Regions from separate parts of the Homo sapiens genome. Here region 1 is linked to region 2. The links come from fine-mapping of genetic effects on gene expression. Tissue or cell type: monocytes after LPS. Region 2 holds a variant in brackets; the other region holds the start of a gene. All regions are shown on one strand. Distances are from middle to middle.

The links. PIP is the estimated chance that this variant, and not a neighbour inherited with it, causes the effect.
Region 1: it holds the start of LIN7B, and the variant in region 2 is fine-mapped to the expression of LIN7B in monocytes after LPS (Fairfax 2014, PIP 0.95).

The regions. Positions count from the first base shown.
Region 1 is chr19:49,111,834-49,117,756 of GRCh38, forward strand. LIN7B (lin-7 cell polarity scaffold B) reads left to right here and starts at 2,537. Exons shown (of 6, transcript NM_022165.3): 1 at 2,537-2,608; 2 at 3,016-3,134; 3 at 3,427-3,498; 4 at 4,430-4,639. The coding sequence starts at 2,572. RefSeq lists a silencer at 2,357-2,936.
Region 2 is chr19:49,300,212-49,308,144 of GRCh38, forward strand. The region is part of intron 7 of SLC6A16 (solute carrier family 6 member 16); the gene reads right to left. Among named protein-coding and RNA genes, the nearest start is that of MIR4324, 4.7 kb to the right of the region's middle. RefSeq lists an enhancer at 1,343-1,422. The variant G/A (reference allele first, on the strand shown) is at 3,533.

The DNA.
Region 1 (5,923 bases), 190 kb before region 2:
TTTATTTTTTATTTATTTATTTAATTTTCCAAGATGGAGTTTCGCTCTTATTTCCCAGGCTGGAGTGTAATGGCACGATCTCGGCTCACTACAACCTCCACCTCCTGGGTTCAAGCTATTCTCCTGCCTCAGCCTCCCAAATAGCTGGGATTACAGGCACCCGCCACCACGCCCAGCTAATTTTTTGTATTTTTAGGAGAGATGGGGTTTCATGAAGTTGGCCAGGCTGGTCTCAAACTCCTGACCTCAGGTGATCCGCCCGCCTCAGCCTCCCAAAATGCTTACAGGCGTGACCACCACACCTGGCCTCACTTTTTTTGTTTGTTTGTTTGTTTGAGACGGAGTTTCGCTGTTTTTCCCAAAGCTGGAATGCAATGGCATGATCTCCGCTCACCGCAACCTCCGCCTCTTGGGTTCAAGCAGTTCTCCTGCCTCAGCCTCCCCAGTAGTTGGGATTACAGGCATGCACCACCATGCCTGGCTACTTTTGTATTTTTAGTACAGACAGGGTTTCTCCATGTGGTCAGGCTGGTCTCCTGACCTCAGGCGATCCACCCGCCTCGGCCCCCCAAAGTGCTGGGATTCCAGGCGTGAGCCACCATGCCCAGCCACACTTCTTTTTAAAAACACTCGCAGCCAGACACAGCGGTTCGTGCCTGTAAACTCAGCACTTTGGGAGGCCAAGGCAGGGGGATTGTTTGAGCCCAGGAGTTCAAGACCAGCCTGAGCAACAAAGACCCCTCCATCTAAAACAAACAAAAAAAGAAGATAAAATTTAAAAACCCCTCTTCTCATGGTTTCTCCCACCTGGGTTTCTGCCTACATTTCAGGCCATTCTCTGCTGTCCTCCTGACTTTTAAGTGTTAGAGAGGTCTGGGGACCAGTTCTAGGCCGTCTTAATATTCGCTTGCCCCTGACATTCTTATCCACTCCGGTGGTTTTATTTACCACCTATGCCCCAATATTCAAACATGCCTGCAGACCAGGTTGCTCTTTTGAGCCCTAGACCTAGATCGATAGTTTCTCCCCATGGATTCTGCATAGGCTCCTCAAATTCAAAATATCCAGTATCGGCCAGGCAAGGTGGCTCGCGCCTGTAATCCCAGCACTTTGGGAGGCTGAGGCAGGTGGATCACTTGAGGTCAGGAGTTCGAGACCAGCCTGGCCATCATGGTGAAACCCCATCTCTATGAAAAATACAAAAATTTGGCAGGTGTGGAGGTGCACACCTGTACTCTCAGCTACTCAGGAGGCTGAGGCAGGAGAATTGCTTGCACCCGGGAGGCAGAGGTTGCAATGAGCCGAGATCACGCCACTGCACTCGAGACTGGGCAACAGAGGGAAGACTGTGTCTCAAAAACAAAATATCCAGTATCCCTCTTTCAGTGTAGACCATCTTAAAAATGGCACCAAAGCACCTTAATACTGTCTTCTCCTGCACCTCCCAATCCCCTTATATAGCCAAGCACCAAGGCTTGTCTAGACATTTCCCACATCTGCCCACCCATCTTCTGTGCTTTGGCCCTGGTGCTAGCTGCCACCTGGATGGCTGTGGTAGCCTCGTAAGTTGCCCCGCTGCTTCTCCTCTTGTTCTTGTCCAAACCAGTCTCCACAGTGGCTACAGTGATTTTTTTTTTTTCAATAGATACGAGGTCTCACTATATTGCCTATGCTGGTCTTGAACTCCTGGGCTCAAGTAGTCTTGCTGCAGCCTCCCAAAGCGCTAGGATTACAGGTGTGAGCCACCGTGCCCGGCCCCAGTGATCTTAAAATACAAATTTGAGGCCCAACCTGGGCGACAGAGCGAGGCTCCGTCTCAAAAATAATAATAATAATAATATAATAATAATACAAATTTGAGTGTCATATTTTTCTCTTAGGAGTTTGCATGAAGCCCCAAATCCTCAAGGCGCATATGCCAACGCAGGAGCCCAGGCATAAACTATCCTGCCGACCTTTTCACCTCATCATCAACCAATCCTAACTCTGCTTCCAGCCACGTGGGCTCTTTCTGGGTGGTGGGGGTGACCCAAGCTCCACCTCTTGTTCATCTTACCTCCCAGGACTGTATGTCAATGTCCCTCCTCTAGGATTTCCTTCGTTTTCTAGATCATCACCTCCCCACTCTCAGCTCTCATCACAGCCGTAGTTGGTCGTCTACCTCCCCTATAGACTGGAAGCTTCGTTCGGGCCGTGGGCTTGGCTGTCCTGCTCACCACGGTGTCCATGACTTGGGCTCAGATGTTTCACAAGAGTTTGTTGAATGAATGTGGGGAAAGGATGGACAGGGGATAGACGGGTGTGGAGGGCAGGCAGACACGGATCCTGAAAGGTACACACAGACCGAACCTGCAGTGGGAGGGGTCGCCAACAGGACCGACTGGCCGGGGCGGAGGGCAGGGCGCGGCTGGCGCGCGGCAGGTGGTCGGAGCAGTCGGGCGAGGGAGAGCTGGGCGCTCTCCAGGCTGCGCCTCCGCAGGGGGCGCCCGTGGCCCGGGGCGTGGCCTCGCGCAGCCCCGCCCTCCTCGCCGGCGCCAGGGCAGGCGGGCGGCTGGCAGCTGTGGCGCCGACATGGCTGCGCTGGTGGAGCCGCTGGGGCTGGAGCGGGGTAAGCGTGCGCCAGGGGGCCCTGCCCACCCGGGCCGCGGCCTACATACCCAGCCCCCGGTCCCCGCCCTTCCCGGGTCAGGCCAGTGCGGGTGGGCCAGCGGACCCGGAGGGGGTGGGCGGGGCGGGCGCCGGGGCCGGGCGGTCGCTAGGTGTGGGAGGCTCCCTGGGCGCGGGCCGGGACGCTGGGCGCCCGCCTTACAACCCGGCCTGTGGAGGGGTCCCGGGGCCGCAGGGCCGCTGGTGGCAGTCTCTCCTGCGCCACCCTGGACTCTGCGGGGTGTCCGACTAGGCTTCGGCCGTCCTCCCCGGACTGTGCGCTCGGCCTCACTCCGCCGCTCTCCTTGCTTCTCTGCGTCTCGGGGTCTCTGACACTCGGGGTTTCTGCGCCCCGCCCCCGCCCCGCAGACGTGTCCCGGGCGGTTGAGCTCCTCGAGCGGCTCCAGCGCAGCGGGGAGCTGCCGCCGCAGAAGCTGCAGGCCCTCCAGCGAGTTCTGCAGAGCCGCTTCTGCTCCGCTATCCGAGAGGTGAGGGGCGCGCGGCGCAGGGGCGCGAGCTGGTGGCCGTCGTCCTCCTCCTCCTCCTCCTGCTTGTCCCGAGCCCGGAGACTACGCCTCCCGGCAGCTCCCGAGGCGGCCCGCCTTGGGGTGCCAACGCTTCAGCTCAGGGGTTCTTCGGGAGTTGTAGTTTTCTCGGCCTTCTGTTGCGGGGGCGGGGCGGATCCTTGCGTGGTAGCGGGAGAGGGTCTAGAGGCCTGAACTCCTGCGTCTAGGGCTGGAGGAGCTGGCGACTCCCTGATGCCGCTGCCTCCTCACCCAGGTGTATGAGCAGCTTTATGACACGCTGGACATCACCGGCAGCGCCGAGATCCGAGCCCATGCCACAGCCAAGGTGGGCCCCGCACCCCATTGCTCCTGGTGTCTATTTAACTGCCTAGTCGAACTCAATATCTCCTTCATGCCAGTCATTTCTGTTTCCTCCCTCATGATTTTTGCTAAATCTATGTGCCACCTTACTATTAGTAAATAATCGCACATTTTTAACTTAAATGTCATACTAAGGCATCTTTAGCAACTGCAAATGGAAACAGTATGGCATGGTTGGTAGAAGATAACCTTCAACATCTGTACAGTGCAAACCAGGAAACTCATGGCGCTCTGACCTCTCACTGCACAATAGTTAGATGCTGCTACCTCTTGCTGCTGTCCGGAGGCTCAGATCTCCCTCCAGGCCTGGCTTTCCTCTGTTTAAAAGTAAGATTGAGGCCAGGCACGGTGGCTCACGCCTGTAATCCCAACACTTTGGGAGGCCGAGGCAGGTGGATCAGTTGAGGTCAGGAGTTCGAGACCAGCCTGGCCAACATGGTGAAACCCCGTCTCCACAGAAATACAAAAAAAAAAAAAAAGAAAGAAAAAGCCGAGCGTGGTGGCGAGTGCCTGTAATCCCAGCTGGATTACAACTCCGGAGGCTGAGACAGGAGAATCGCTTGAACCCAGGAGGCCGAGGTTGCAGTGAGCCGAGATCATGCCATTGCACTCCAGCCTGGGCAACAGAGTGAGACTTCATCTCAAAAAAAAAAAAAAAGTAAGATTGGCAAGTATGGGGTATTCAAGACACACACCAAATGGACACTTTCTCTTGCAAGTGAACAGAAAGAGACGCACAGTCATTACAGGGGGATCGTGCATTGTGCCATGACAAGTGTCCCATGCTTGGGGATAGTAACCCAGGCTAAATCGCTGTCCTCGGTCCACATCCCCCACCCCAGCTTTCATGCCTACCTGGAAGGGGCCCTCATCTTCAGTCGCTTTCTCTCTCCCAGGCCACAGTGGCTGCCTTCACAGCCAGCGAGGGCCACGCACATCCCAGGGTAGTGGAGCTACCCAAGACGGATGAGGGCCTAGGCTTCAACATCATGGGTGGCAAAGAGCAAAACTCGCCCATCTACATCTCCCGGGTCATCCCAGGGGGTGTGGCTGACCGCCATGGAGGCCTCAAGCGTGGGGATCAACTGTTGTCGGTGAACGGTGTGGTGAGTGGAGGGCTGAGGCAGGACTGGGGGACACAGTCTGTCTAACGTAGCATAGCCCCTGCTTTTGACATTCACTCAACACACACTGAGTGTTGTCTGTATGGCTAGCCCTGTGCTGGGCAATGTTACAGACTCTGAGAGATGTTGGCCTCAGCTCCCTACACTCAACCTTCTCTCTCTGGGGAGGGCAGTAGGCCCCGGCTGAAATAGTCCTAATCCAGAGACATAATAATGAGGAAGTGCAAAGTATTGTGACAGCCCAGATGTGGCACCAGGCCAGCATAGATACAGGAAGGTTTTGCAGAGTAAGGAACATTTGGGTTGGGTGTTAAAGGATGAGTAGGAGTTCTCCAGGCAAACAAGGTACAGGGTGTTCCTGCTGAGGGTACTGTAGATAAGGATACTGACTTGGCATACCTCTGAGCTGAAAAGAAAGGGCTTAGTTCTGATGGAGGTCTGGGGCATGCAGGTAATTAAAATCACTGTGGTTAGGCTGGGTGCGGTGGCTCACACCTGTAATCCCAGCACTTTGGGAGGCTGAGGCACGTGGATCACTTGAGGTCAGGAGTTCAAGACCAGCCTGGCCAACATGGTGAAATCCCATCTCTACTAAAAATACAAAAATTAGCCAGGTGTGGTGGCAGGCACCTGTAATCCCAGCTACTTGGGAGGGTGAGGCAGGAGAATCGCTTGAACCTGGGAGGCAGAGGTTGCAGTGAGCTGAGATAGCACCACTGCACTCCAGCGTGGGTGACAGAGTGAGACTCCCTCTCAAAAAAAAAAAAAAAAAACAAAACTCACTGTGGTTAGAGTTGAGGGAAGCATAACTGGAGAGATGGCTGGGGTCAGCCATACAGGACCTGAGTGCCAGCCTGAGAAGCTGGGACTTTGTCCCATGGGTGCTGGGGAGCTATGGGAGGGGTGAGCCAGGGATAAACTCAGCTTGCAGGTGCAGAAGGACCACTCTGGGACTCTATGGGAGATGAACTGAGGGGAGAGATTAGAAGCCAGGCCAGGGAGGAGGCTGGGGTAAGAGTCCAGAGAAAAGAGGACAAGGCCTGAGCTGGCCCAGGGCTGTGGGGACAAAAAAGAGGGAGTCAAGGCGGGCGGACATTAGTGGGCTGTGGGCAGGGAGGCCACAAAGATGGGTCTGGACGTTTGGCCAGGGACTGAGGGAACACGGGGCTGTCCCTGACATGGGAATCCTGGGAGGTTTTGGAGGAGGACACTGAACCAGGAGTTAATGACTCCCACGAGGAGGACATGAGGCATTGACATCTCAGG
Region 2 (7,933 bases):
CTTGTAATCCCAGCTACTCGAGAGGCTGAGGCAGGAGAATCACTTGAACCCAGGAGGCAAAGGATGCAGTGAGCTGAGATTGCACCACTGCTCTCCAGCCTGGGTGACAAAGTAAGACTCCGTCTCAAAACAAAACAAAAACATGATATAACATTCAAATGTAAGTTAGGAATGCATGTAAATGGATATAAAGAGTTTTGGAGCCCTTATCTTGAAAGACAGTGAAGTACTGATTACCTTTAGACATCGATAAATTAAGAATGCATATTGTGAATTCTGGGGAAATCACTAAATCACTGAAAGAACAGAAAACAGAGTGGATAACTTCCAGACTAGTGGAGGAAAAAAAAAATGGAATGATAAATAACTACTAAGTCAATCCAAAAGAAGGCAAGAAAAGAGAAAAAACAAAATACAGACCAGGAGAAACAAATAGCAAAGTAAGATGGGAGACAGAGCCAATTATTTCCTATCATGATGGCAGAGAAAGGGATCCAGCCTCCCTTTCTCTATAAAGAGCAACAATTTGGCAACTATCCTTGAACAACAATTACTCTGGGCCGGGCGCGGTGGCTCATGCCTGTAATCCCAGCACTTTGGGAGGTTGAGGCGGGAGGATCACTTGAGGTCAGGAGTTCGAGACCAGCCTGGCCAACGTGGGGAAACCCCGTCTCTACAAAAAATACAAAAATTAGCTGGGCATGGTGGCACGTTCCTGTAATCCCATCTACTTGGGAGGCTGAGACAGGAGAATTGCTTGATTCCGGGAGGCGGAAGTTGCGTGAGCCGAGATCAGGCCACTGCACTCCAGCCTGGAAGTCAGCGAGACTCCATCTCAAAAATAAATAAATAAATAAAATAAAATAAAAATTACTCTGGAAGAATTGAGAAGTCGGCTTCAGCTGACTTTTAGTGGGAGAAAGAACCCTAGAAAAACCCATACAGAAAGGGTGGAAAGAACAATTCCATTTTGCCCACATCACCCCATCCCCCGAGCCAGCACTGCTCAGCATGGAGAGGGAATTCCCTGGCTCGCATAACCCTCTTTCAGGGATAATGAGAGCAGGCTATACCACCAGCTTCCCTAGTGTTTTGGGACACTGCCCAACCAGCTTCAGTTTCACTCCATTCACATTTCCGTGGGGACTGGCATTGCCGAGACTTACGGAGATAATGGGGAACCAAGAAGTGGGACAGGCTGTCAGTATCAGCCATGCTGGTGGGAGCCACAGCGCCCCCTAGTGGCCTGCTCAACACGGGTCTCTAGCACACTTCTGTACTGAGGACCTCAACAGCACTCCTGGCCACTGTGCAGCTCCCCACAGTTTTCACCACCAAGGACACCTTGGTGTTACCAATGGCTGATGCCAGCACCATTTTCTGCAGAGGAACCAAGCAGCTTTCACAGCTGAGGAAACCAACTGCCAGCACTGCAGCAGCAAAAGCCCTGTAGTTTTTTCCACCTTCACAGTCTCCAGGTGCCTGGCCCTCTAATTTCTCCTTCCTCTGTCCCTGAAACCACCTAAGCTGTTCAATACCATGGTCACCCAGACCAGACCCAGGGACTCACCCCAGTGGCCATCGCATTCTCTGGGTGCCTAAGCCAATACCCCTCCTCTATGGAGTCACCCCAGCTGCTGCCTCTACAAGTGCTCTGAGCCAAGGACCCAGCACAGCTACCATGCATGTGCCTGCACACAGCCATGCCTCCCCATCCCCAGGTTCTAACTCCAGCATCACGTTTGCACCCTCAGCTAGGCCCCGCGGCTGCATGTGCACACACGCCTCCAGCTCAGCCCTGCAACTGCCCACGTACATGCAGATGGACTGACCTCTGTGGCCAGACTGCAGCAGGCCCCTGCAGTTAGGCACAAGCTGTCAGGCCCCACTGCCACATGCATGCCCTTAGTCAACCCCAGCCCCTGCCTCTGACTCCACCCCTTGCCACCATTAATGAGCCTGCAACTAGCCTCTGCTGCCATGCTTGTGCCTACAGCCAGCCTCTGCAGCAGAGTGTGTGCACACCACTGACCCCAGCCTCCACTGCTGCGAGTCCTGGCCCCTAGATGCTAGGCAAGAGGCACAGCTGAGGTCCCAGAAAACTCTGTGGGAGGTTCACAGCCACTGTGGACCTCCCACAGCTGTTGCCACCAAGGACCATGCAGGTATCAACATCACAGCCCCCAGCTGCCTGTGCTAACAAGACTCTGTGTCCCTCCAACCTGGACCCACCACACGCACCCCCACCCACAGTTGGCACTCTGTGCCACTGGACCCAGTGCCAGAGAGCACCACTCTTCTCCCCAAAAAAAGCATTTGAAGTTAATGCTTCTTCAAATGCTTTTCTCAAGACTATAAAAATCATGAAGAATTGGAGAATCATGATAACACCAAAGGAAAACAATAAACTTCCATTAGCTGACTCCAAAGAATAGCAGATCCACTAATTGCCTGACAAAGAATTCACAATAATGGTTCTAAAGAATCTCAGTCAATTATAAAAGAACAGAGAAAACAATTTAACAAAATCAGGAAAACAATAGAACAACGAAAGAAGAGGCTAAACAAAGGCACTGAAAATATGAAAAAGAACCAAACAAACATTTTTGAGCTGAAGAATAACAATAAACAAAAAATACAATAGATGGCTTCAACAGCTGACTAGAAAAGCAGAAGAAAGAATAAGCAAATTCAAAGACATCATTTTAAATCATCCAGTCAGAGGAGAAAAAGAAAAAGAAATGAAGATAACCAAAGAAAGTCTACAATATCTATGGGAGGCCATCAAGAGAACACTTACATAACAAGATTTACAGAGGAGAAGAGAAAAGGACAAAGTTTATCTTTAAAAATAGCTGAATACTTCCCTAATCTGGAGAAAGATACAAACATCCAGGTACAAGAAGTTCAGAGGTCTCTAATAAAATTCAACCCAAAGAAGAGTTCATTGAGACATATTATAAACAAATTATTTAAAACTGAAGACAAAGAATTCTGAAAGCAGAAAGAGAAAAGCATATCACATATAAGGGAGCCCCAGTACAAGTATCGACACATTTCTCAACAGAAATCTTGCAGTCCAGGAGAGAGTAAGATGATATATTCAAAGTGCTGAAAAAAAATCTGACAACCAAGAATACTTTAAAAAGTATGTAGGCCGGGCAGGGTGGCTCATGCCTGTAATACCAGCACTTTGGGAAGCCAAGGCAGGCGGATCATGAGGCCAGGAGTTCAAGACCAGCCTGGCCAGTATAGGGTTTAGTAGAAACCCTGTCTCTACTAAGAATACAAAAATTGGCTGGGCATGGTGGCGCCCACCTGTAGTCCCAGCTACTTGGGAGGCTGAGGCAGGAGGATTGTTTGAACCCGGGAGGCAGAGGTTGCAGTGAGCTGAGATCACGCCACTGCACTCCAGCCTGAGTGACAGTGTGAGACTGTCTCAAAAAAAAAAAAAGAAAAAAGAAAAAAGAAAAAAAGCCACACCATTAGAACTGGTCTCATCTAACGCCCTTCAGTCATTTGATTTATACAA[G/A]TGATAAGGTTTGGGGCACAAAACTATTATCATATTACTATTAATTTTACTTTATATTTGCCCTTTTTAAAACTTTGTATCTGTCACTTGTTAAATTTTTACAGAAGTACAACTCCTAACAAAATAATGCTGGCCCAGCCAAACACTTTGAGATGATAACAAAAGACTATGGAACAGACAAAATTGAACTTCATAATGGACCTCAGATAGACTTAGCCTAAGAGATACCCCCTTCAAATGTCCCTTGTTGCTCAAATGTGGCTACAAGAGTTTGACACTGACTCCAAGTCACCCATCATTCCCCTCAATGTGACATGAGACCAGCAACTGGGACAGGCCCATCATGACATTGAGGGACAGGAAAACCCAAATATGAATGATTGATCAGTGATGCTTTTGGAGAAAGATCTTGATTAAAAGAGGAAATGTGAACGTTATCAGAATAAAATGGAGTCACTAATGTTAAGAAAGCCCTAGCAAATTGAGTCAAGGAAGGCCATAAAGAGAGGGTTCTCACACTTGTATGTCTGATTAGAAAAACAACTACAAAAACTATAACCACGCATAAAGGCCACTGCAACCTTACACACACAAAATATTCCTGCAGAAACATCTGCCCAACAAACGCCTATCCAATCTTGGACTGGTGTCACCCTTGTTATCGATCTCTGTAGTCAAGGAAAATTATTTCAAAACAATTATGTTATCCTCCTCATTTTTTTCCTTTAAAAACCTTTGTTGGCTGGGCGTGGTGGCTCAAGCCTGTAATCTCAGCACTTCGGGAGGCTGAGGTGGGCGGATCACCTGAGGTCGAAAGTTCGAGACCAGCCTGACCAACATGGAGAAACCCCGTCTCTACTAAAAATACAAAATTAGCCAGGCGTGGTGGCACATGCCTGTAATCCCAGCTACTCGGGAGGCTAAGGCAGGAGAATCGCTTGAACCTGGGATGTTCAATGCACTCCACCAGGTGAGAGAAAAGAATTTTAATATATACAACTGGAAAATGACTACATATCCAGAACATATAAAGAACTCCATAGAAAAAGATAGATCATCCAATATTTTTTTTAAAATGGGCAAAAATGAACTTGACCACACATTTTGCTTTAAACTATGACAATACAAGTATTTGCACGAGTGAGGTAATGAGAACTTCCATACACACATTTCATATACATACAATTATAAATTGGCACAGATACTATGGAAAGTAATTTGGCATCATCTGTGAAGTTGTAGATATATGTGGTAGATTGAATAAATACAGCCACAATATTTTGGAGCTCCTCCAATTAAGAGGTAAAGTCTATTTTTCACCTTTGGAATCTGGGGTAGCTTTTTTACTTCCTTCAACCAAGAAATGTAGCAGCAATGGAAGCAGTCCTATACTTCGCTTCAAGACACTTTGCTGAGTCTGCCTTTGTGCTCTGTGAGCTACCATGTGAAGAAGACCAAACTAGCCCCATGGAGAGGCCTCATGGAAGAGAGCAGCCCTTGCTGGCCAGCCAACTGACTACAAACAGGAGTGAACCCAGCCACCACCACTTAAAGAAGAGCAGTGCCGGCTGGGTGTGGTGGCTCACGCCTGTAATCCCAGCACTTTGGGAGGCCAAGGTGGGTGGATCACTTGAGGTCAGGAGTTTGAAACCATCCTGGTGAACATGGTGAAACCCCGTCTCTACTAAAAATACAAAAATCAGCTGGGTGTGGTGGTGGGTGCCTGTAATCCCAGCTACTCGGGAAGGTGAGGCGGGAGAATCGCTTGAACCCGGGAGGCGGAGGTTGCAGTGAGCCGAGATTGCACCATTACGCTCCAGCCTGGGTGACAAAAGCAAAGATCTGTCTCAAAAAAAAAAAAAAAAAAGAAGAAGAAGAGCAGTGAGCAGCGCCGTCCCTGCTGGGCTCAGCCCCCAGCCAACCCTCCAGCTAAATGCAGCCATGTCAGTGAACCCATACAAGCCCAGCAGAAGAGCTTTCCAGCCAACCCGCAGAATCATGAGATAAATCATTGTTGTTTTAATCCATTTACTTCCAGAGTGATTTGTTACCCAAGAATAGACAACTATGCCCCAACAATCTAACTCATATCCCAGAAAAATGTGCACATATGTAGTACATCAGGAACATGCATAAGAATGTTTGCAGCAACATTGTTTTAATAGCATAAAACTGGAAAGACTCCAAATGTTATCAATAGTTGAATGGATTTTTAAAAACTGTGGTATATTCATATACTGAAACATTATACAGCATTTTAAAAGCACAGATTAGGCCTGGCGTGGTGGCTCACGTCTGTAATCCCAGCACTTTGGGAGGCCGAGGCGGGCGGATCACGAGGTCAGAAGATCGAGACCGTCCTGGCTAACACGGTGAAACCCTGTCTCTGCTAAAAATACAAAAAATTAGCCAGGCATGGTCGTGGGCACCTGTAATCCCAGCTACTTGGGAGGCTGAGGCAAGAGAATGGTGTGAACCCAGGAGGCAGAGGTTGCAGTGAGCCGAGATCACACCACTGCACTCCAGCCTGGGCAACAGAGCGAGAGTCTGTCTCAAAAAAAAAAAGAAAAAGAAAGAGCACAGATTAAAGTTATACACAATATGGATAAATATTGCAAACATGTTGGATGAGAAAAAGAAAGCACAAAAGTAAGCAAAGAGAATGTATATATGAGGGAACAAATAACTAAACATATTGCTTTATATAAGTGGACAAATTATATTGCTTAGCTATGCATACATAGATGATAGAATATAAAGAAAAACATTAATCACTATCCTTAGTTCTTTGTTTTTTTTTTTTCTTTTTTTTTTTTTTGAGAGAGAGTCTCACTCTGTTGCCCAGGTGGAATGCAGTGGCACAATCTCAGCTCACTGCAGCCTCCACCTCCCAGGTTCAAGCAATTCTCCTGCTTTGGCCTCCTGAGTAGCTGGGACTACAGGTGTGTGCCACCACGCCCGGCTAATTTTTGTATTTGTTAGTAGAGATGGGGTTTCACCATATTGGCCAGGCTGGTCTCAAACTCCTGACCTCGTGATCCATCTGCCTCAGCCTCCCAAAGTGCTGGGATTATAGGCATGAGCCACCGCACCCGGCTTGTTTTTCTTTACATTTGATCATCTATGTATGCGTATCTACTAAGCAATATAGTAACCACTATCCTGACTTTTATGATGGTTACCTCTGGGAGGCAGTAAAGAGATTATGATTAGAAAAAGATACACAGAGAGCATCTAGGGTTATTCTAGTTCTTAATACAGGTGATGTTTACTTCACGGTTCGTTACACAGTGCATTGTTTTATACACTTTTTTTTTTTTTTTGTTAGAGGAAGGGTCTCGCCCAGCTGATTTCAAACTCCTGGGTTCAAGCAATCCTCCCACCTCAGCCTCCCTAAGAGCTGGCATTACAGGCGTGAGCCACTGCTCCCGGCCTTGTTTTATGCATTTTTCCATATGTAGGTAATAGCTCATAATAAAAGGTTTTTTTGAAAATACACAAAAAAACTACCATTACACTCCCACCAGACTGGAAACAATTTAAAAGTCCAACCAAGTTTAATCAAGTGTTGTGCAAAAAGTAGAACAAATGGAAGTCTCACACATCCCTGATGGGAGGGCAATGCATTACGCCACTTTGAAAACCAGACAATATATGATAAAATTGAAGGGGAGCACACCCTACTCAGCAATTCCTTTCCTAACTATATGCTGTCAAGAACTCTTGCACACGCACACATGTATATTCCCAGGCATCTTCTAGAAGAAAATGGTGGTTATTTGTGAGGGTTAGGGTTACTAGGAGAGGTCGGGCGCGGTGGCTCACGCCTGTAATCCCAGCTCTTTGGGAGGCAGAGGCAGGAGGATGGCTTGAGCCCAGGAGTTCAAGACCTGCCTGAGCAATATAGTGGGACCCTGTTCTCAAAAATTTAAATTAAAAAAAAAAAATCTGCTGGGAGAGAGAGGAAGAGGAGGAGGAAGCAAAAAAAAAGAAAAAGAAAAAAAAGAAAAAGAAAAAAAAAAGATTACTGGGAGAAATTCAACTCAGGGTTGCCTCCTCTGGAAGGCCCCATCTGACTAGTCCAGACAGAATTAATGGCTCTGTCTCCTGTCCTCACCCATCACTTCAGTTACCAGTTAGCACAAGTTTTTGGCTGTCTCATTCTCCTTTCCTTCCCCCTCCAAAATTGAAAACTTAATGAAACAAGGACTGTGGTCTGATTCACCTGTCCAAGTCTCTGTTGTATAGAAAGAACACTTCCTAAATGTCTGTCTGATGGATGTTTTTGGAATTAATGCCTAAAAATAAGAAAAATAAGAAACAGGGGTGATCAGACAATCAAGGTTCTAGTACAGAGAATCCTTTTGGAGTTTCTGCTAGATTGACAGAAATCCCCAATTC